Regions from separate parts of the Homo sapiens genome. Here region 2 is linked to region 1. The links come from fine-mapping of genetic effects on gene expression. A gene starts in region 1. The other region holds a variant in brackets. All regions are shown on one strand. Distances are between the middles of the regions.

Region 1 (10,634 bases):
ATCTGGAGAATTAGCACACATATTAGCACTAGAAACAATGATGATTTCATCAGGAGTTTTCCCTGAGTTAGAATTCAACACCTAATCAAAGACATTCTGGTCAGAACTAAAGAGGGCAAACATCTTTTTCTCAAATTATAAATTGTCCTGACTGTGTAGCAAGCACAACTGGGATGCCAATGCAAGGGTTTCCTGCTCTGTCATGTCTAATATCAATAATCAGTTGTTCTCAGTCTCACCTTTTTTTCATTCTCCAAAAAGAGGGTCAATCTTATCACATACCACCTCCATCAAACCCTTGCCATTTTGTTGGCTGAATACCTGCACATCCTGTATGCCTATACTCAAATGGTACCATGCTAGACAGTCAATAGGATGACAGGCACCCACATTTCAAGAAATGTGATTAACTTATGGCAACAACAGTCAGAGATTATTCTTCCCACAAACCACTGAATGAGTCAGTCACACAAAATTTCTATTTGTACCAAGTATGTAATGTCACAAAAATTGCAAGCTTCATAATCTATACTTTTTTGTCAAGAATGGCCCTGTGCATTAGGTGCCTCAAATTCTACAAAATTAACACAAGTCACTGTGAGAGCTCAGTACACTTCTCAAAGCTACTCAGCCAATGCATGACAGATAAAGACTCAAAATCAGGTCTTCTGGCTTCAAGTCTCACAATCTTTTCTATTACTTCATTCCAGGAAATTGAATTCTAGTTACGAAGGCAAAACTAACAGGTAAGAAACAATCAAAAGCCCACCTATGCGATGGGTTTATAAGTTCAGTACAAGGGCTGGATCAGCATGGGCTGGAAGATTTAAAGGAAAATGTTTGGGAATACTTTTTTTCACATGAACTCTACATGGAAGTGTAAAACAAGTATATGAGCTGTTTTGATTGGAGCTAGGGTAGGATCCTCCCAGAGCCCCTTTCCCACTCTATGCAATGAACTCTCCTCAGTAACTTCTCAGCCACTAGGGCTCTACCGAGTAGTTTGGAAGCCAATGGACTAAATCAGTAGTTCTCAAAGTATAGTCCCTGGACTAGCAGTGTCAGCAATACCTGGTAACTTCTTAGAGATGTGAATTCTTTGAATCAGAAATTTTGGAGATGGGGCTTAATAAACTATATTTTAGCATGTTCCCCAGGTGATTCTCAGACTTGTAAAGTTTGAGAAATAGTGAACTACTTCATCTCCATAAAGTAGGAAGGGACGCCACCTGCTTTAAAAGAACATTTGAGATTGGGATTGGAAACTTTGAAGGGGGTAGGGAAGGTCTGGGACTGCCAATAGGAAGCCTTCTCTCAAATAGCAGAGATAGATGATAGGGATGAACGTCCTGACCAAGGCTAGAAGGTGTCAGTATGCACACCCAGTAATCCTGTCTTGCCCCTAAACTTCTCCTGCAATACCTAGAATAGGACAGAAGACAGTGGGCATTTGAGGTCATCTATACCTGGATAGAAAGTTTAAGGAAAAGAGGGGTCTAGGAGGCCACGTTGAAGTGACTGGCCAGGAAGGGACCGAAATCTTGATAGAGGAAATGAATAGGCTCAGTAATGTCAGAGAATGGGAGAAGTGGAATGAGGAGGCTTAACTAAGCCTATGGGGACGGAGAATCTCCATGTCTGAGATCTCAGTGCTGACAAAATCCTAAATTACATCAAAGTCCAAGATCTGGCTCTATTTCATATTTCCCTGTGGAATTTATGTTACTGAATAGACAAACTTGTATAAAAACAATTTCTATATGGTATAAAAACCCAGACAAAAGTTGCAGTTTTCTACATTCAAAAATATTTTTAATGTTTTTATTTTTATCTGTTTGTGAGAATTTGTAAGATTATTTTGTTTTGTTTTTCATATGAGATGGGGTCTCACTGTGTTGCCCAGTCCAGTCTTGAACTCCTGGCCTCAAGTGATCCTCCTGCCTCAGTCTCCCGAGTAGCTGGAATTACAGGTGCATGCCCCCACACTTGGATAATTTCTGTACTTTTTATGTGTTGGTGTAACATTGTCTTCGTCTTTTCTTGGAAAGGGCTATATGTTTATTGTTACTGTCTTTAAAATTGTGGTAAAATATGCATAACATAAAAATTAACTATTTTAACCATTTTTAAGTGTACAGTTCAGGTATACTTTTTTAGTGCCAAAAATGTCATTCTTCTATAAAATAACAAATATACTGTGATGGGGGAGGGGGTTGTTCTTACTAGAAAAATTAAGAAGTCGTTACTTATTTTGAGTCCCTAACTTGGTTTCGAAATATAACACGGGACTAAGAAATTCAGGAATCAAACAACTACTGCCCTAAAGGAGAGTTGAGATTTACAGGGTTAGGATGGTCAGGGGTGGAAAGTGGTAAGAACAAGCCAGTAGAAAGAGGAAGGTGCAGGGCATTTTTAGGAGTGTGCAGACCAGACTTGCTAAAAACAAAGTGCGCTTGAAAAGGAACAGTTAGAATTAAGTTTTGGTCCATTTTAAAATATTTAATACCTAATAATGTTTGGTTCATAGCAGAAACTCAATAAATATTTGTCAATTGAGTGTAGTGAAAGCTTGAGTGAGATTCAGAAGAGCCAGAAAATAAAGTTTAAATTTCATTTTATAGACCAGAGGTTCCCAAGAGATGTACCAAGAATGGGCAGCCAACGTGCTAAGCTATCGATCACCTTTCAAAGGAGTCAGGCAGAAGCCAGGGCATCTGGTCAACTCTAGGCCAGGTATGTTCTAGTATGCTGTACAAGTACAACTGTCTATAGATGTCATTGGTGGAAGACAATAGGAAGCAATGGGGAACCACTAAAGATAATTGAGCAGTGGAGATATAAGATGGCAGCAATATTTCCAGGAAGACTATTGCTGTGGTTTTAATGTTCATGTCCCCTACAAAATTCATATATTGAAATCCTAACCCTCAATGTGATGGTATTAGGAGGTAGAGCCTTTGGGGAGTAATTTGATCATAGGGCAGAGCCCTCATGAATGGGATTAGTGCCCTCATAAAACAGGCCCCAGAGAGGTAATTTGTCCCTTCTACCAAACAGTACACAGTGAGAAGGCACCATCTGTGAGAAAGTAGCCCTTCACCAAACACCACATCTGCTGGCACCTTGATCTTAGACTTGCCTCCAGAAGTCTGAGAAATAAATTTCTGTTGTTTATAAACTACCCAGCTTACAGTATTTTGTTATAGCAGCCCAAACAGACTAAGACATCTATTAACCTCGTGATAAAGCAAGAGCTGGATCCCAGGCTCAAAGCTGGAATCACTGGGACTCCCAAGGTATATATTATAGACATTTGAAAATTACTTCCCCAAATTTACTCTCCCTAACCCCACTTTTTAATAATACCGTAAAACGTTCCACAAAATGGCCTAGGTGAAATTGATTATACTCTCACCCCCATGGGTGAGCGCTGATTGGCTTAAAACAACTAGCACCTTTTTCCCCAGGACCCACAGACATTGGTTCAGAAATGGGCGCATAATCCAGTCAGGGATTTTTTTTTTTATGAGAACTCCTAAGAAAAAGATTCCTGTACTTCTCTCTGAAGTTGAGCCAGAAAGCATGTACCCCTAAGGGCTGTTGGCAGCCATCTTTGGACAAAAACCAGAGAGCCTGAATGAGAACAGAGGAGGTGCAGAGGAGAAATAGTGAAAGCAAAACTAGATCCAGGTGTCAGCATTTAAAATCCTTGATGTCTTAGCCCCGGACTCTCCAGTTACTACTTAAATTCCTGTTTCTGCTTCAGCTAGCTTGGGTCTTGTTTTCTTTTACTTGTAACTGAGGTTAAAGTGATCCTCAGAATAAGAGGGGAAAAAGTGGACCCTTGTGGTAATCTAGCACTCTGGGTAGACAGTAGCTGTTCAAGGAAAAGAGAAGAGGGGTGCAGGTGGCTACACAGAAGCGATTAGCCATCAAGGGACGAGGGTGGCATTGGGATGAAAAAGGAAGGGCTGGCTCTGAGCTTCACCATGAAAGAAGTGCACATGAGAATGGTTTCTGTCGGGCCCTCACTTTGGTTAATTCTACTGCTTTCTCCTCAGGGATGATGAAGGCCCCCAGCTCATCCCCAGGGAAATGATGCAACCAGGTAGCTGGATCAGAAATGAAAAAGTCAGGAAAAGGGAAAGGTTGCTTGCGCAGTTACTAGGGATACGAAAAGGAGGCTAAAAAACGGCAGGGGGTGGCCTGGAGGGAATGTGAAACATTTTTGTGTGTTTTACACACACCGAAAAAAAAAGAGGACATGGACAGAAACCTAGAGAATAGGAGGACAGCATAGTATAGTTACTAAGAATAAGCTAAGAGTTGGTTCCCCGGGACCAAACAGATACCATTTCCAAAACCCACGAATTACTTACCGGCTGTCTCAATTCACCTAAGCTTCCCTTTCTTGTCTGTAAATGAGCATGAAAGTGCCACCTGTATAAAATAACTCAGGCTCCCAAAATGTAACATAGGGAAGCTCCTAGCAGCGTGTCTGGGAGGAATAAGCATTATCTGTATTTATCGTATCAAATTAAGATAGAGGAACACAGGAGGACAGTAGAGGATGAAAATAAAACACTACTTAGATCCTGACCCTCCTCAGTGGCAAGTAGTGAGCATTCACTTCGTACAGAAGTAGCACTAAGGCAAATTAAAAGAAAGGTTCACATTTCCTCTAAAAGAAATGGTTTTTGAGTCATGCCAATACCACTTACTCAATGTCCTCTGTACTATACTATTCTCTGACAGAGCCACTTATTAAATGTGTGAACTGTGCTGACAACACTTGACAACTTTCAACATGAGGGAACAGCAGGATCACTTAACAGAACAAAATCGTAAAATAATGTCAAAGCTTGATTTCAGGTGGTGCGGTGTAGCACTGCTCTTCACGAAATCAGGACTCCCCCGACCAGGCAGGGCCGACTAGGTTAGAGTGTCCTGCCCTCACTCACCTGGCAGGGCTTGGGATGAGCTGGACGTGACTGCCACAGGCATTTCTGTTCAACCTTGAAGCCTTCGCTACAGGAGACCGCCTGGCAGTCGGGCTGGGAAGCAAATCTGAGAAACAAAGAGAGACCAGGCGGAAAGCCCTTGGGACCAGGAAGGAGAGATGAGATTCTGGTTTGGCAGTGGCACCTGGTACCCGCTATTAATAAATAATAGGACTGTCTGACATTTATAAGGCACTTTATCGGTAATAACAGTGTCATCTCCATAAGCCATTCTATTAGTGGTAACAAATAATAGCCCCACGCCTGCAATATCTCCTTTAATATTCCCAACGTCCGCTAAGCGCGTCTCATCACCATTTAAAGAAACCGTGGCTCCTAGAGGTAAAGTACTTCGGTCACAACGCGAGGAGGTCCAGACTTGACCCCAGACCTCCAGACTCGAGCTGGGAAGTGGCCGAGGCTCCTGGTGAGCCGCAGGGCAGCCTGCCCAGCCCCGGGAGGACCGCGTGGGAGGGCCGGGAGAGCAGGTGGCTGCCCCCCACAAGGGGGCGGGCTCAGCCGGCCAGTCCTGCCCGGAACCCCCGGCAACGCGCATACGACTACACCTGCTCCGGAGCCCGCGGCGGTACCTGCAGCGGAGGAGCTCTGTCTTCCCCTTCATCTCACGCGAGCCCGGCGTCCCGCCGCGTGCGCCCCGGCGCAGCCCGCCAGTCCGCCCGGAGCCCGCCCAGTCGCCGCGCTGCACGCCCGGGGTGAACCCTCTGCCCTCGCTGGGACAGAGGGCCCCGCAGCCGTCATGCTTTCCGCCATCTACACAGTCCTGGCGGGACTGCTGTTCCTGCCGCTCCTGGTGAACCTCTGCTGCCCATACTTCTTCCAGGACATAGGCTACTTCTTGAAGGTGGCCGCCGTGGGCCGGAGGGTGCGCAGCTACGGGAAGCGGCGGCCGGCGCGCACCATCCTGCGGGCGTTCCTGGAGAAAGCGCGCCAGACGCCACACAAGCCTTTTCTGCTCTTCCGCGACGAGACTCTCACCTACGCGCAGGTGGACCGGCGCAGCAATCAAGTGGCCCGGGCGCTGCACGACCACCTCGGCCTGCGCCAGGGAGACTGCGTGGCGCTCCTTATGGGTAACGAGCCGGCCTACGTGTGGCTGTGGCTGGGGCTGGTGAAGCTGGGCTGTGCCATGGCGTGCCTCAATTACAACATCCGCGCGAAGTCCCTGCTGCACTGCTTCCAGTGCTGCGGGGCGAAGGTGCTGCTGGTGTCGCCAGGTGAGCCCCGAGGATCGCCCTGCCCTGGCACCAGGGCTTCTCGGCGCCTTGACTGACGAGCCACAGCGTGGCATAAGGGGTTCGCAGAGGGAGGTTCAGATCGGAACTGTAGGTATAGAAAAAGGTTGGCAGTGTTTCCTTGAATCGCAAATAATGATCTTTTAGGACCACCTGTTGTGGAAGCTGATAATGTGCTAGGTTCTGTGTTAAGCACTCTACAGGCAGTGTGGTTTTTAATCCTCACAATGGGTAGGCTTTGTTATAGGACTTTTATAGATGAGACCACTGAGGTCCTGAGAGGTGAAGCCTCATGCCCAGCCATCTATCTCCAAATTCCAAGCTCTTAATCAATACTTATAACATCTGCATTAAAATGCAGAGGATCTTGAGTGCGAACTCTAGTGGATCCAGAGGGGCTCTTCTCACCTCTGCTGCTTGACTGGCTGTGTGATCATGGGAAAGTCACTTCTCCTCTCTGTCCCTTGGTTTGCTCCTCTCTAATGAGGCAGGCTTCAATGTTGCTTCCAGCTCTCAACTGCTGTTAGCATCCTGTCCCCTCCCTGCAGAACAAAGGTGACCCCACCTGATCCCCAGGGAGAAGATACTGGGGATCTGCTACAGGACCGTTGTGAGCCCCCACTGCATCTATCACAATAGTGACCCTTTCAGTTCTGTGGTTAGCTCCTGCCACATTTCAGCCAGACTTGAAACAGTAACTTAAGTGATGACAAGGTCAGGAAGTGACAGAGAACCTGTTACTCACAGGGCTGATGGCTTTCCCCTCCCAGAGAGCTTGTCTCTGCACTTGAATAAGGACCAAGGGTTCCTTCTCTCAGTCAGTAAGAAGAGGCCTACACAGGAGTGGGCTGAAAGACCTGGGTGACAGGGTAGGGGTCGAGGGAGCCGAGGAGCCTCAGCTTTCTAGAATGCATTTCTGTGCTAAGCCCTATAGTAGATGCTTTTATTACCCCGGGAGATAACATATCACTATCCCCACCACCACCACCACCATTATACAGTTGAGAAAACTGAGGCTTAAAATTCCAACCTAGCTCTATCCAACTTCGAAGCCATGCTCTTTCCTACATCTTTTTTTTTTTTTTTTTTGACAGTCTCGTTCTGTTGCCCAGGCTGGAGTGCAGTGGCGCTATTTCAGTTCACTGTAACCTCTGCCTCCCAGGCTCAAGCGATCCTCCCAGCTCAGCCTCTCAAGTAGCTGGGACCACAGGCATGCACCACCATGCCCAGCTAATTTTTTGTTATTTTTGGTAGAAACAGGGTTTCACCATGTTGCCCAGGCTGGTCTCAAACTCCTGAGATCAAGCGATCCACCCACCTTGGCCTCGCAAAGTGCTGGGATTACAGGTGTGAGCCACCACACCCAGCCTCTTTCCTACATCTTATTGTTTTCCTCTGCATGGATGTAAACTGTTAAGTGTGCTGGAAGGGATGAAGTGTCCACTTGCTCTACCCCTTCATTTCATAGCTGGGGAAACTGAGGCAAGCTAAGCGGGTTACAGAAAGATGAAAGGTTAATTCACTTGTGAGAAACCAGGAATCTTACACACCTGCTTCATGTGGCATGAAATAAATAATCCAAAAAATATAGGCTTTGTATAAAAGTTTAAAAGCAGAAAGCCAAATTTTAGGCTGGGCGCAGTGGCTCAAGCCTGTAATCCCAGCACTTTGGGAGGCCGAGGCAGGTGGATCACTTGAGGTTAGGAGTTCAAGACTAGCCTGGCCAACATAGCAAAAACCCCGTCTCGACTAAAAAAAAAAAAATTAGCTGGGCATGGTGGCGCGTGCCTGTAATCCCAACTACCTGGGAGGCTGAGGCAGGAGAATCACCTGAACCCAGGAGGCAGAGGTTTCAGTGAGCCGAGATCATGCCACTGCACTCCAGCCTGGGGGACAGAGTGAGACTCCATCTCAAAAAACAGAATAAAAAAAAGACAAGTTTAAAGGTGGCTAAATTATTTGGAAGAGATGGTCCTTTCAAGAAAATTCCCATTAATTTCTAGCTGCCTGAGAAAAGCGATAACTTCACTACTTTGTAACTAGAAGACTCTCCTAAGCCTATTACTTTACCAGCTTGCTTGGAGGGAAATTATTAACACAGTGATCTTTGTACCACTTCAGGAAGCATTTAAATTCTGTTTATCACTTTAGTATCCCAGGTCCCCTGAGAGGGAGGTCACAGGGTTTGGAGTTTTGTTGACAAAGAAGTTCAGGATTAAATGACCATAATACAGTTTGATTCTGCAATAAAGTCAGAATTACAACCAGATACCCTCTTCCCACCCAGCTAACAGTTGTCTGCCATAGAGCTATGTGTTTACATAGAGAATATATGGGAATTTCTATATTAAACTCAAACGTGAACCAGACTTTACAGTGGACCTAAGGCACTCTCTGGACCGTCAACTGACCTCTGAGGGAGGCCACATATTTGAAAAAAAATCAGTTTTTCCAAATCACTGAGATACCTTTGCACATGAAGCAAAATTACAGTCTGTCACAGAGTTGCATGTTTACTAAACATGCCCATGGGAAAATATGTTGAATGGACTGATTCTTAGAATTCTTTGGTGTTGGAAGGGACCTTAGAGATATTCTAACCCTATAATCCTGTAAGTTTAATGAATGTGTTATACTTTAAAAAAAAAAGTTTACAGAAGAAACTTTAATAAGCCCAAGAATCACCTAGGAAGCTTACTTTTTTTTTTTTTTTTTTTTTTTTTTGAGACGGAATCTCGCTCTTTCGCCCAGGCCAGGCTGCTGTGGCGTGATCTCGGCTCACTGCAAGCTCCACCTCCCTGGTTCACGCCATTCTCCTGCCTCAGCTTCCTGAATAGCTGGGACTACAGGCACCCGCCACCACGCCCGGATAATTTTTTGTATTTTTAGTAGGGGCAGGGTTTCACCGTGTTAGCCAGGATGGTCTTGATCTCCTGACCTCGTGATCTGCCGGCCTTGGCCTCCCAAAGTGCTGGGATTACAGGCGTGAGCCACCACGCCTGGCCGGAAGCTTACTTTTAAAAACATTCTGAGGCTGGACACTATGGCTCACTCCTGTAATCCTAGCACTTTGGGAAGTGGAGGAGGGAGGATCACTTGAGCCCAGAAGTTCGAGACTAGCCTGGGCAACATGATGAAACCCCATCTCTACAAAAAAAAAAAATACAAAAATTAACTGGGCATGATGGTGAGCACCTGTGGTCCCAGTTACTGGGGAGGCTGAGGTGAAAGGATTGCTTGAGCCCGGGAGGTTGAGGCTGCACTGAGCTCTGACTGTGCCACTACACTCCGGCCTGGGTGATAGAGTGAGACCCTGTCTCAAAACAAAAAAATAAAATTTCTGAGATCATCCCCAAAAATGCTGATTCAGTAAGACTATGTTGGGGCCCAGGAATGTGTATTTTTATAAGAAACCCCACCGCCAACCCTAGGTGATTTTGAAACAAATGGTCTGAGGACTAGGCTTTGAGAAACAGTCTAGTTTCCCATTGTTTTTCATTGTTGTTTGTTTGTTTGTTTGTTTGTTTGTTTTTGAGACAGTCTCGCTCTGTTGCCCAGGCTGGAGGTGCCGTGGCGCGATCTCGACTCACGGCAACCTCCGCCTCCCAGGTTCAAGCCATTCTCCTACCTCAGCCCCTCAAGTAGCTGGGACTACAGATGCCCACCACCATGCCCAGCTAATTTTTGTTATTATCAGTAGAGATGGGGTTTCACCATGTTGGCCAGGATGATCTCCATCTCTTGACCTCGTGATCCACCTGCCTCGTCCTCCCAAAGTGCTGGGATTAGAGGCGTGAGCCACTGCTACTGGCCTTCTCATTGTCTTATAGCTGTATAAACAAAGGCCTAGAGGGATGATATGAATTGCCCATGATCAAGTGGATAGTTAGGAACAGAAAGGTAGAGATAGAACCCAAATATTTTTTTCTCACTTACGAGGCACTGTTTATTCTATCACACCATCTTGAACATGATACATAAATGTCAGTTTGATTCCATATTTTGAGTTTCAGCCCAGGGCTTGTGGACTAGTAAGAGCTCTTGAGCTCCATCTGTCAGTCAAATTCTGCAGTATATGTAAAGGACCAGCACAGAGGCATTTATCATGAGGATTGATCCAGTTGTTATGAATTTGGGGGTTTCTTTATAACACTTAACAGGACTCAACCCTATCAGGAATTTCAGTACTCAATTACTCTTTTCAATTTTACTATAGTTACAGAAAGTCAAGACTCATAAACACTTCCCTGAATCAAGCAGCAGCACTGTTTCCCAGAGAATATGACTTTCTCTCTGTTGTACATTTCAGGATCGTTCTCCAGGGCAGGGTATGATCTAGGTAATCACATGGGAAAATTGTCTCCAAGGATAAGAACCTGTA
Region 2 (10,634 bases), 52 kb before region 1:
TACATTACAATTAAGCTGGTAAGATTTTTAAAAAGAAAAAAAAAGATACCTAAATTTATGGGTGCTAAATGTCACCTCTGGGAACCAGCTCCTGACAGTGATCTGGACTTTCCCTCAAGGGCTCTCCTGAATATCCCTTTCAGTGCAGACACTCAGACACAAGCAAGAACAATAGATCCTACAGGGCTTGTTGTTATGCAAGCCCACTCACCAAAACCAGGTGATTTGCATTTAATTTGCCCTTTCAAATACTATCTGAACCATGTGTTCCAGAACTAGATGACCCAGCTTTAAACCAGACAGCCTAACACCAAGCCAGACTATTGGCAACTCTAGTTGTAAAAGTCATTCTAACAATTCATTTCCAAGTGATGAATGCTCCACAGCCAAAACTGGATCCTGGAATAGGCTGTTGGCATCAGCAAGAGAAACACTCCCTAAAATAATGTATCTCTTGCTATCAGGGGAGTATAGTATCTTCTTTGCACATAATGGGTATCCAGTAAAGACTTTTGGCCTCCGCTTTTTTATAGACTGACATCATAAGAAGTCCTTCCAACAATCAGGGCATTTACAAGAAAGGAGTAGTAGAACAATGAACCCGATCTGGATCAGTTTCAGGGCTACATGGTTCTTGTTATCTCAGAATCTCCAAGACCCAAGGAGCAGCCAGACACTTAGGGTCTTTTAACACTCACTCCAGCCCCATTTTCTCCTTAGCAAACTGTCATCCCAATGAGAAGAGACGCTCTGCTCTTCATCTCTTTACCCTTTTAGTCTGTCCTCCAGGTCACTGGGTGTGAAAATTTCCTACCCCTTATATGACACTTGGGAAGTGTAGGGTCCAAGATCAAAGGAGTTCAGGCTCTTAATCAGGACATGTCTCTGGGACATTTCACACATTCTTCACCATTTTCCAAGCCCCAATTCTGTATCAACCCCTCTGCAAGGCATTGGGGACCCCAAGGTAACTGAGACCTGGTCTCTGTGAGAACAGAAAAATAGCTCAGAGCAGTCTGCACTACGGGAGGTTCGAAAAATTTATCAGGCCCAAAAAGACAGGAGTCTAAGATTTCAGTCATGTGACCCCCAAACCCATCTGTGGGGGCAATTGTTTAAAGGCATTTTGTTCCTGACTACCTGCCTCACCTATTATCTTCATGTTCCTGGAATTTTAATACAAAGAAACAACATATAGCCAATCAATAACTTATGTTATTTTTAATGTAAATTCTTGGTAAACAACTTAGAAACTGCCTCTTCTTTTCTTTAAAAACCTGCTTGTAACTGCTGCTACAGCTTGTAACTGCAGAAAACTGAATCTATGCTCCCAGGTTGCAATCCTCAAGCTTGGCCCAAATAAACCCTCTAGTTATATCTATTTTGCCTGGGATTCTTTCTTTTAGGTCGATATCTGCCCTAACAAGAATCCTTCTAGTGGAAGAGAAAATAGTTGTGAACAAATTGTGACACAATGTGATAGTAACTCTAATTTAGGTGTCCCTTGTCCAAACAGGCTTCGGAACTACAGGAGAGGGGAAGCCATATTTCAGTGTGGGTGTGGAGGTGTCACGGGAAACCCTCAGAACAAGTGAAGCTGAGTCCTGAAAGATGAGTAGATGAGTTAGGGAGGGTCTTGTTAGTTCCTAACAAGCTAACAGTCCAAAAAAAAAAAAAAAACACTTCACTAATACTGTCAGAGGCGTCCAAGGCCTTTGAACCAGAGCAACTCCATCTTACATTCCCAGAAGATTAGTCATTCTTAGACACAGTTTCAGTTAAGGGAACAGGTTAATAATGTTTACTGAACAGACCCAGGAAATGTCCCGATGACCTGATATTGTTACTGGAAAGGGATCCCAATCCAGATCCCAAGAGAAGGTTCCTGGACCTTGTGCAAGAAAGATTTCCATTTGGTGGAGGTCCGAGTTTCTGAAAAGTAAACTCAGGGTCATATGTCAAGATGTTATCTTTAGCTTCTGTAGAGAACCAAACATCTTATGACTATAACTTCTTTAGCTATTATTTTAAGCTACTATTACTCTCTTACTTATCAAGTTGCTCATTTAATTCTCAGGACTAGCTAGGTGCCTGGAATTTCCATTGAAGAAACGCAAGATTTTCCTTTATTTCCATGCTTGGTGGAGGGTGGCAGGCAATCTGATAAGCAAGGAGGTAATAATAGCTTGAAACAATAGCCAAAGAAGTTAGAGTCCCAATAGAAACTAAAAATAACATCTTAACATATGTCCCTGAGCTGTTTTGCAGAAACCTGCCCACAGCCCCCACACCCCCCCGCCACCAAATGGAAAACACCATCCACTGGCACAACAGACCTTGGGGAAGGGGGAACTGGAGACTGAAATCTGACCACTGTTCTTCATTCTAAATTTCTTCCTGAGGGGCCTGGCAGAAGTTATACCTACAGGCCAGAGTTCAACATTCCTTTCTGCTGACCCCAAGTTTTTAAACAAATCTTAACCAATCGCAGATCGGGAAATCTTTGAATCTACCTGTAACCTGTGGACCCCCACTTCAAGATGTCTCCCCCTTTTTAGGTCAAACCAATAGCCTCCATGTATTGATTTATGGCTCTGCCTGGAACCTCTGCCTCCCTGCCTTTAAAAACTCTTACATGGAAGCCATCAAGGGGTTTGGGTTTTAAGATTAGCTGCCCAATTCTCCTTGCATAGCACCCTGCAATAAATGCTTCACTTTTCCTCACTGCAAATCAATCCCAGTGTTAGTATTTGGCTTTGCTGCATGGGCAGGCAGATTAACTGACCCATGTTCAGTTCAGTAACAATGGCCTTCCTCTACTGTGACTTGGGCTTCCATTCTAAATGGCTTGAGTGAGTCACAAACATACATCCCACAGCAATCGTGAATGTGGAGAGCAAAGGTGAGTTTGCCATCATCTCAGTATATCAGTCAATGTAATTTCTAGGTCCTAATGGATCAGAGACCAGGCAAAGATTAGGCAAGAATTGAGTCATGGAGGCCTCAAATGTTGCCTTATACACACTATCTCTGAGGATAGCAACCTAGACGCATTCTCTCTTAGATAAATAAACTGCTGCAGCTTGTGCTATAATACCGATTGCAAAGAAATTGATCCTACAGAACTAGAAGACTGCACTGGAGCAGGAGGTTAAAGCATCGGATGGCAGGAGGGAGATAAAACTGTTCAAGGCAGCTCTAGGACCATCCTGTCCTCTAGAGATATCCCATTATACATAGGGAGAGGAACAAACACCAGTAAGGTCTGTCTTTGAAGAAATATTAATTTCAGATGAACAATACCAAGGTGTGCCTCACTGTGGTTCTGCACACATCCCCACCAATGCTGAGCCATCTTTAGGTAGAGTGTGCCCCAGTCTCAAGGCCCAGGAGCTACAGCAGATGAGCAGATGATGGAGCTACTTCTTGTGCAACCCCATGTTTCTGTGCATTTCAGGGTAAGGAAGGTGCTACCTTCAGAGCTTCTCTTTTGAGTAAGCCAGTGTTTCGTTTTGTATCCAGTCTGTCAAGGAAAGAAGGAATTAATATCACCCCAGAAAAGCAGGAGGAACACTTATGGAGTTAAGTCATGCCAGAGACCAGCGAAAGAAGGGGAATCATGGAGACAGACACCAGAGTCCTGGGTTTTCCTAGCTTCAGAGCTAAACTTCAAGAGGGAGCTGGCTTTAGAAACATCCAGAGAGTTGGAGTCACATGGAAAATCTAGGCTAAGCACCCATTTCCTTTGGGTCTGAAGGGTGCCCTTCTCCATCAGAGCATCAGATCCAGCAAAGCTGGGAGCAGTATGGAACACTGGAGGAGAAAGGTGGCTGCAGATGCTTGAGGCTATGTTCCTGCCTCCTTGTGGCTGATGAAGGGCAAGGCCTGGGCCAAAATGACAAGATCTGCTTGTGCAAAGAGAATCCAGAGGACCTGGCATGGATCCAAGGCTCCCACTTCCCTCTACTGTCACAGAGTCACACAGGTTCTCTGTGATGCCATTCTGGAGAGAAGCAGGAGAGGAGAGGGACACCCAAAGGCCCTAAAAAAGACTAAATAATCAAAAGCTTATTTGAACTGGAAAAGACTGTGGTTGGTAAATTGATCAGTGGAAGGTTTATTGGGGATTATTTTTCCCTACTTACCCTTTGGAGTGTGTGAGTTAGTGAAAAAGGACAGATCCTTTGTAAAAAGTTAAGTAGGCTGGGCGCAGTGGCTCATGCCTATAATCCCAGCACTTTGGGAGGCCAAGGTGGGCGGAGTTCGAGAACTCACAAGGTCAGGAGTTCGAGACCAGACTGACCAACATGGTGAAACCCTGTCTCTACTAAAAATACAAAAATTAGCTGGGCCTGGTGGTGCGCACCTGTAATCTCAGCTACTCAGGAGGCTGAGGCAGAAGAATCACTTGAACCCGGGAGGTGGAGGTTGCAGTGAGCTGAGATCGCGTCATTGCACTCCAGCCTGGGTGACAGAGCGAGACTCCGTCTCAAAAAAATAAATAAATAAATAAAAGTTAAGTAGCCACATTTTTTAGGGCATATAGGTAATAGTGTGAGTAAATTGTGACCCCAGCTACCTCATGTCCATCACTAAATGCAATCTGTTTTTTTTTCTTGTTATCTTGAGGAGTCAAATTCATATCAAGAACGCTGTATTAGTTTCCTAGGGCTGGAATAGCAAAGTACCACAAGCTGGGTGGCTTAAAACAAGGGAAACTGATTCTCTCACAGTTCTAGAGGCTGGAAGACCAAAATCAAGGTGTTGGCAAAGCTGGTTTCTTATGGAGGTTCTGAGGGAGAATATGTTCCATGCCTCTCTTCAGCTTCTGGTACTTGCTGACAATCTTTGGCATTCTTTGGCTTGTAGACCCATCCCTCCACACTCTCCCTCTATCAACACATGGCATGCCCTTTGTGCGTCTTCTCTGTTTCTTCATGTCTTTATATGGCCCTCTTATCAGGACATGATTAGATTTGGGCTCCATTCTAATCAAATATGACCTCAATCTTAACATCTGCAAAGACTCCATTTCCAAGTAAGGCCACATTCCAACATTCCAGGTAGACATGAATTTTGGGCCACACTATTCAATGCAGCACAAATGCAAAAGGGGATTTTAATTAATGGCCAGTATTGAAATTATGTGGTAGACTAGGTCAAGAGATCGAGACCATCCTTGGCAACATGGTGAAACCCCGTCGCTACTAAAAATACAAAAATTAGTTGAGCATGGTGGCACGTGCCTGTAGTCCCAGCTACTTGGGAAGCTGAGGCAGGAGAATCGCTTGAACCCAGGAGGCGGAGGCTGCAGTGAGTCGAGATGGTGCCACTGCACTCCAGCCTGGTGACAGAGCAAGACTCTGACTCAAAAAAAAAAAAAAAAAAAAAAAGAAAGAAAAGAAAAGAAATTACATGGTAGAGTACTAGGGAGATTTTCATTTGCTATAAAGAGATCTAGAGGTCTCCACCACTTGGCCAGACTAGACTTCTTTGGTTCTCTACTCTATATGAATGTTGAGGCCTTTTCACAGCCTGCATAGATGCCCTTTCCCTGCCTTGTTTACCTGGCTAAATTTTCCACATCTTTCAGGTCTTAACTGCATTCTCACTTCCTCTAGGAACCCTCTTCAGAGAATTTTAAGAAATCAGAGCTTCTCTGGGCTCCCATGATATGCTGCCTTTCCCCATCATGGCACTTGCCTTGCTATAATCACACCTGTCCACTTGTCTGGGTCTCTAATACCTGAGGGTAGCAACTCAATTTCCCACTGGTAGCACTGGGCTTAGCACAGAATGTAAGAGCCCAGGACTCCTGTGATAAGATTACCCAGGCTCTGGTGAGTAACTGAGTATTCTTATATAAGTCACTCAACTTCTTGGGGTCTCAGTTTCTTCATCTAAAAAATAAGAGTCTTGGCTGGGTGCAGTGGCTTATGCCTGTAATCCCGGCAGTTTGGGAGGCTGAGG[C/T]GAGCGGATCACAAGGTCAGGAGATCGAGACCATCCTGGCTAACAAGGTGAAACCCCGTCTCTACTAAAAATATAAAAAATTAGCCAGGCGTGGTGGCAGGCGCCTGTAGTCCCAGCTACTCAGGAGGCTGAGGCAGGAGAATTGCTTGAACCCAGGAGGCAGAGGCTGCAGTGAGTCGAGATGGTGCCACTGCACTCCAGCCTGGTGACAGAGCAAGGCTCTGACTCAAAAAAAATTAAAAAAATAAAAATAAATAAGAGTCTTGGATTGCAATGTCTAAGCAACCCTCCTTAGTCTAACGTTCTATGTTAGTAATTGTATTAGTCCATTTTCATACTGATATAAAGAACTACCCAAGACTGGGTAATTTATAAACAAAAGAGGTGTAATTGACTCACAGTTTCAGCATGGCTGGGGAGTTCTCAGGAAACTTACAATCATGGCAGAAGGTGAAGGGAAAGCATGGCACCTTCTTCACAAGGCAGCAGGAAGGAGAAGTGCCTAGTGAAGGGGAAAGAGCCCCTTATAAAACCATCAGATCTCATGAGAATTCACTCACTATCACGAGAACAGCATGGGGGAAACTGCCCCCATGATTCAATTACCTCCACCTGATCTCTCCTTGACACATGGGGATTATGGGGATTATGAAGATTACAATTAAAAATGAGATTTGGATGGGGACACAAAACCTAACCACATCAATAATGATAGGTAAGAACTTCTAATAGCTATGCAGTACTTAATAGTTCTAAGTGCTTCATATATAGTAATTCATTTCATATTACAATAATTCTATCCTTTACAGATAAAGAATCAGAGAAACAGAGAGGTTAAAGAACTTTCACAAAGCTGCAGAGCTAGAAAATGGCAGAAGTGGAATTTGAACCTGACAGTCTGGTTCTAGAATCTATGTGCCTAACCAATCCACTATCTCTGCCTCTCTATAATGATTCTCCTTTTATTCGCTAGAGGAGCTGGTGTGAATGTTTCATCCCCAAGGAACCAGATATGTCTGATTCTTCATTTATATGCTAGAAATATAAGCTCTAGTTCATCACAATTAGGCAAAAAGGGGAGTAACATTTCAATATCTTATAATCAAATGTTTAACACTAATATATAAGCATTGATATACTTCAAACTCTTAGTAGTATCTTTGGAATAATACTAACAATATTTATATATTATTATATTCATATAATATTATATTATACTAATATTAACTGAAATATAAATATTTTAATACTAAAATACTAAAAATATTTATATTTCAATTAATATTATCATGTAATTAGAAATATTTTAAAAATAATGGTTATAAAATCACGCAGCTACTGCTCTTGCACCTGTTACTCAGCATTAGAAACAAAAATGTTTTGTTCTGGAAATTTAACCTGATTATATTTATATTAGTCCAAATTCTTATTAGATTTATTTTGTCCTTTCACTTATTTTTAAAGGTAATGCCAAAGGCCATTGTTTCTATGCCTGATTATAGTACTCACACACACACTATAATAGTCATTCAACAATTGGCCTGTGGTTTGGCACCCCCGAAACCAACTTGAAAATAAACAAGTTATTGGCAATATTTATTTAAGTACAGGCTGTATTACTATTAAATAATTAGTATTCTGTTTCATGACTTTCATAATAAAAAGTACAGGAACAGCCATCCTAAGCTTGCATTGGTAATATGAATATTAATTAGATATGGATTCTTTTATGGATCCATAAAAAAGTGGGTGAAGGACATGAACAGACGCTTCTCAAAAGAAGACACTTATGCAACCAACAAACATGAAAAAAGGCTCATCATCACTGGTCATTACAGAAATGCAATTCAAAACCACAATAAGACACCATCTCATGCCAGTTAGAATGGCGATCATTAAAAAGTCAGGAAACAACAGACCCTGCAGAGGATGTGGAGAAATAGGAACGCTTTTAAATTGTTGGTGGGAGTGTAAATTAGTTCAACCATTGTGAAAGACAGTGTGGCAATTCCTCAAGAATCTAGAAGCAGAATTACCATTTGACCCAGCAATCCCATTACTGGGTATATACTCAAAGGATTATAAATCATTCTACTATAAAGACACAGGCACAGATATGTTTACTGCAGCACTATTCACACTAGCAAAGACTTGGAACCAACCCAAATGCCCATCAGTGACAGACTGGATAAAGAAAATGTGGCACATGTACACCATGGAATACTATGCAGCCACAAAAAAGGATGAGTTCATGTCCTTTGCAGGGACATGGATGAAGCTGGAAGCCATCATTCTCAGCAAACTAACACAGGAACAGAAAAGCAAACACCACATGTTCTCATTCAAAAGTGGGAGTTGAACAATGAGAACACATGGACACAGGGAGGGGAACATCACACACCAGGGCCTGTTGAGGGGTGGTGGGCTAGGGGAGGGATAGCATTAGGAGAATACCTAATGTAGATGATGGGTTGATAGGTGCAGCAAACCACCAATGGCACATGTATACTCATGTAACAAACCTGCACATTCTGCACATGTATTCCAGAACTTAAAGTATAATTTTTAAAAAACTTGAAGTTTTGTACATACAATGGAATATTATTCAGCCATGAAAATGAAGAAAATCCTTCCATTTGTGACAACCTAGATCAGCCTGGAAGACATTATGCTAGGTGAAATAGACCAGAAACAGAAAGATAAATACTGTATAATTCTCACTTACATGTGAAATCTAAAAAAGTCAAACTCACTGGGCATAGTGGCCGACACCTATAATCCTAGCACTTTGGGAAGCAAAGGCAGGAGGATTGCTTGAGCCCAGGAGTTTGAGACCAGCCTGTGCAATATGGGGAAACTTCATCTCTACAAAAAAAAAATTACAAAAAACTAGCCAGGCGTGGTGGCATGTGCCTGTAGTCCCAGCTACTCAGGAGGCTGAGTAGCTACTCAGGTGAATCACCTGAGTCTGGGGAGGTGGAGGCTGCAGTGAGCCATGATCACGCCACTGCATTCCAGCCTGGGTGACAGAGTGAGACCCTGTATCAAAAATAAAAAACAAAAATAAATTAAAAATAAGAAAGTCAAACTCACAGAAGCAGAGAGCATAATAAGCAGTTGCCAGGGGCTGGGGTTAGAGAAATGGGGAGATGTTGGTCAAAATTTATGAACTTTCAGTCATAAGATGAATATGTTTTGGAGATCTAACATACAACATGATGATTATAGTTAATAATACTGCATTGTATACTTGGAATTTGCTAAGAGAGTAAATCTTAAGCATTCTCTCCACACACACAAAATAATGAGCCAGGTATGGTGGTTCATGCATGGAATCGCAACACTTTGGGAGGCCAAGGCAGGAGGATCGCTGAGGCCAGGAGCTTAAGACCAGCCTGGGCACCATAGCAAGACCCCACCTCTATAAAAAATAAAAATTTAAAATAAAAAAATGGTAACTGTGTGGTGATTGGATATGTTAATTAGCTTGATTATGGTAACTATTTCACAATGTATATGTATATCAAATCATCACATTGTATACCTTAAATATAGATAATTTTTATTCATAAATTATACCTCAGTAAAACTAAGGAAAAATAAATTAATATGTAAGAATGATAGACTGTCAGTGAGAGGGAAATGGAAAAAAAGAAAAATAGACTGTCAAAAGTAAAAATAAATAAAAATTAAAAGTTGGAGTTTAGCAGAAGAAATAAAACATAATGTAAAAATAACTATGGCAAGTAAACTATGCAATGATCAGCGCTCTTATAAAGGTGGAAAGAAAGTTGCAATGGGAAAGAAAGGCAAGTGAGAAGAGGGTCAAGATCAGAGCAGACTTTGGGGAAGAGAAAGCTCTTGAGCTAGTCCTTGAAAATTGGTGTGATTCCTGTATACAACAATAAGGAGTGAAAGCCATTCAAGTAGAAAGAACAGCAGGAACAAAGACAGAGAAGTCAGAAAACAGAGTATCTGCAAAGAACATCAAATACTGTACTTCAGTCTATCTGGCAAGTGGAGTGCATAGGAGATAACGGGAAATCAGGGGAAAAAACATATGTTAGGGTTAGATTATGACCCTTACAATTATCCTAGTACATGACAATAATAGCCTAAGGCAGTGTCAACAAGAATGGAGAACAAAGTATAGATTCAAGAAATATTCCAAATATAGAACTGACAACATTTGGCAACAGAAGGGGAAGGAAGAGGTAAAATGTCAAAGATGATGTCACATTCTTTGCCCTAATGGCTAGGGGAATGTTGGTGGCATTGACAAAAATAAGGAGAGTGAACGTGGAACAAATTCTGGTCCATCTGTTTGAGTTCTGCATACCAATGCTCAGCTAGCTCATCACAAAGCAGAAGTAGAGAACATTTCAAGCTCAACAGTCACTCTGTGACTCATCAGATGTGAGGGTGAAGTTATTTTTACTCTCACAGCAGTAAAACAAAACCTGAACATTGTTAAAAAGATTCTTCAGGTTTTCTGAATGTTCAAGTGGGTTGTCTAGAACAACAAGCCTTAACTTAGAGCCTCAAAATCTAATCTTAGAGGAAAATTTAAATGGTTTTATGTCCCCAGTCCTTTAGTCCTTAGCTGGTTGAAATCTAAAAGCTATCTTTTCTCCTTTTGAGATATGAGTGTGACACATCATTCA

Alleles and levels. Alleles are on the strand shown, and positions count from the first base shown. SD is a standard deviation of normalised expression in the study named.
With allele C in place of T in region 2, the expression in caudate of the gene that starts at base 5,526 in region 1 is lower (moderate effect, 0.42 SD a copy in GTEx).

Evidence for each region. PIP is the estimated chance that this variant, and not a neighbour inherited with it, causes the effect. A credible set is the group of variants that fine-mapping cannot tell apart.
Region 2: its variant is the best candidate, but not a certain one, in a credible set for the expression of SLC27A2 in caudate (GTEx, PIP 0.50).

What each region holds. Positions count from the first base shown.
Region 1 is chr15:50,176,671-50,187,304 of GRCh38, forward strand. SLC27A2 (solute carrier family 27 member 2) reads left to right here and starts at 5,526. Exons shown (of 10, transcript NM_003645.4): 1 at 5,526-6,235. The coding sequence starts at 5,758. It also overlaps a transcript of ATP8B4 not described here. RefSeq lists silencers at 5,418-5,757, 6,028-6,127.
Region 2 is chr15:50,124,577-50,135,210 of GRCh38, forward strand. It overlaps a transcript of ATP8B4 not described here. Among named protein-coding and RNA genes, the nearest start is that of ATP8B4, 11 kb to the left of the region's middle. The variant C/T (reference allele first, on the strand shown) is at 5,971.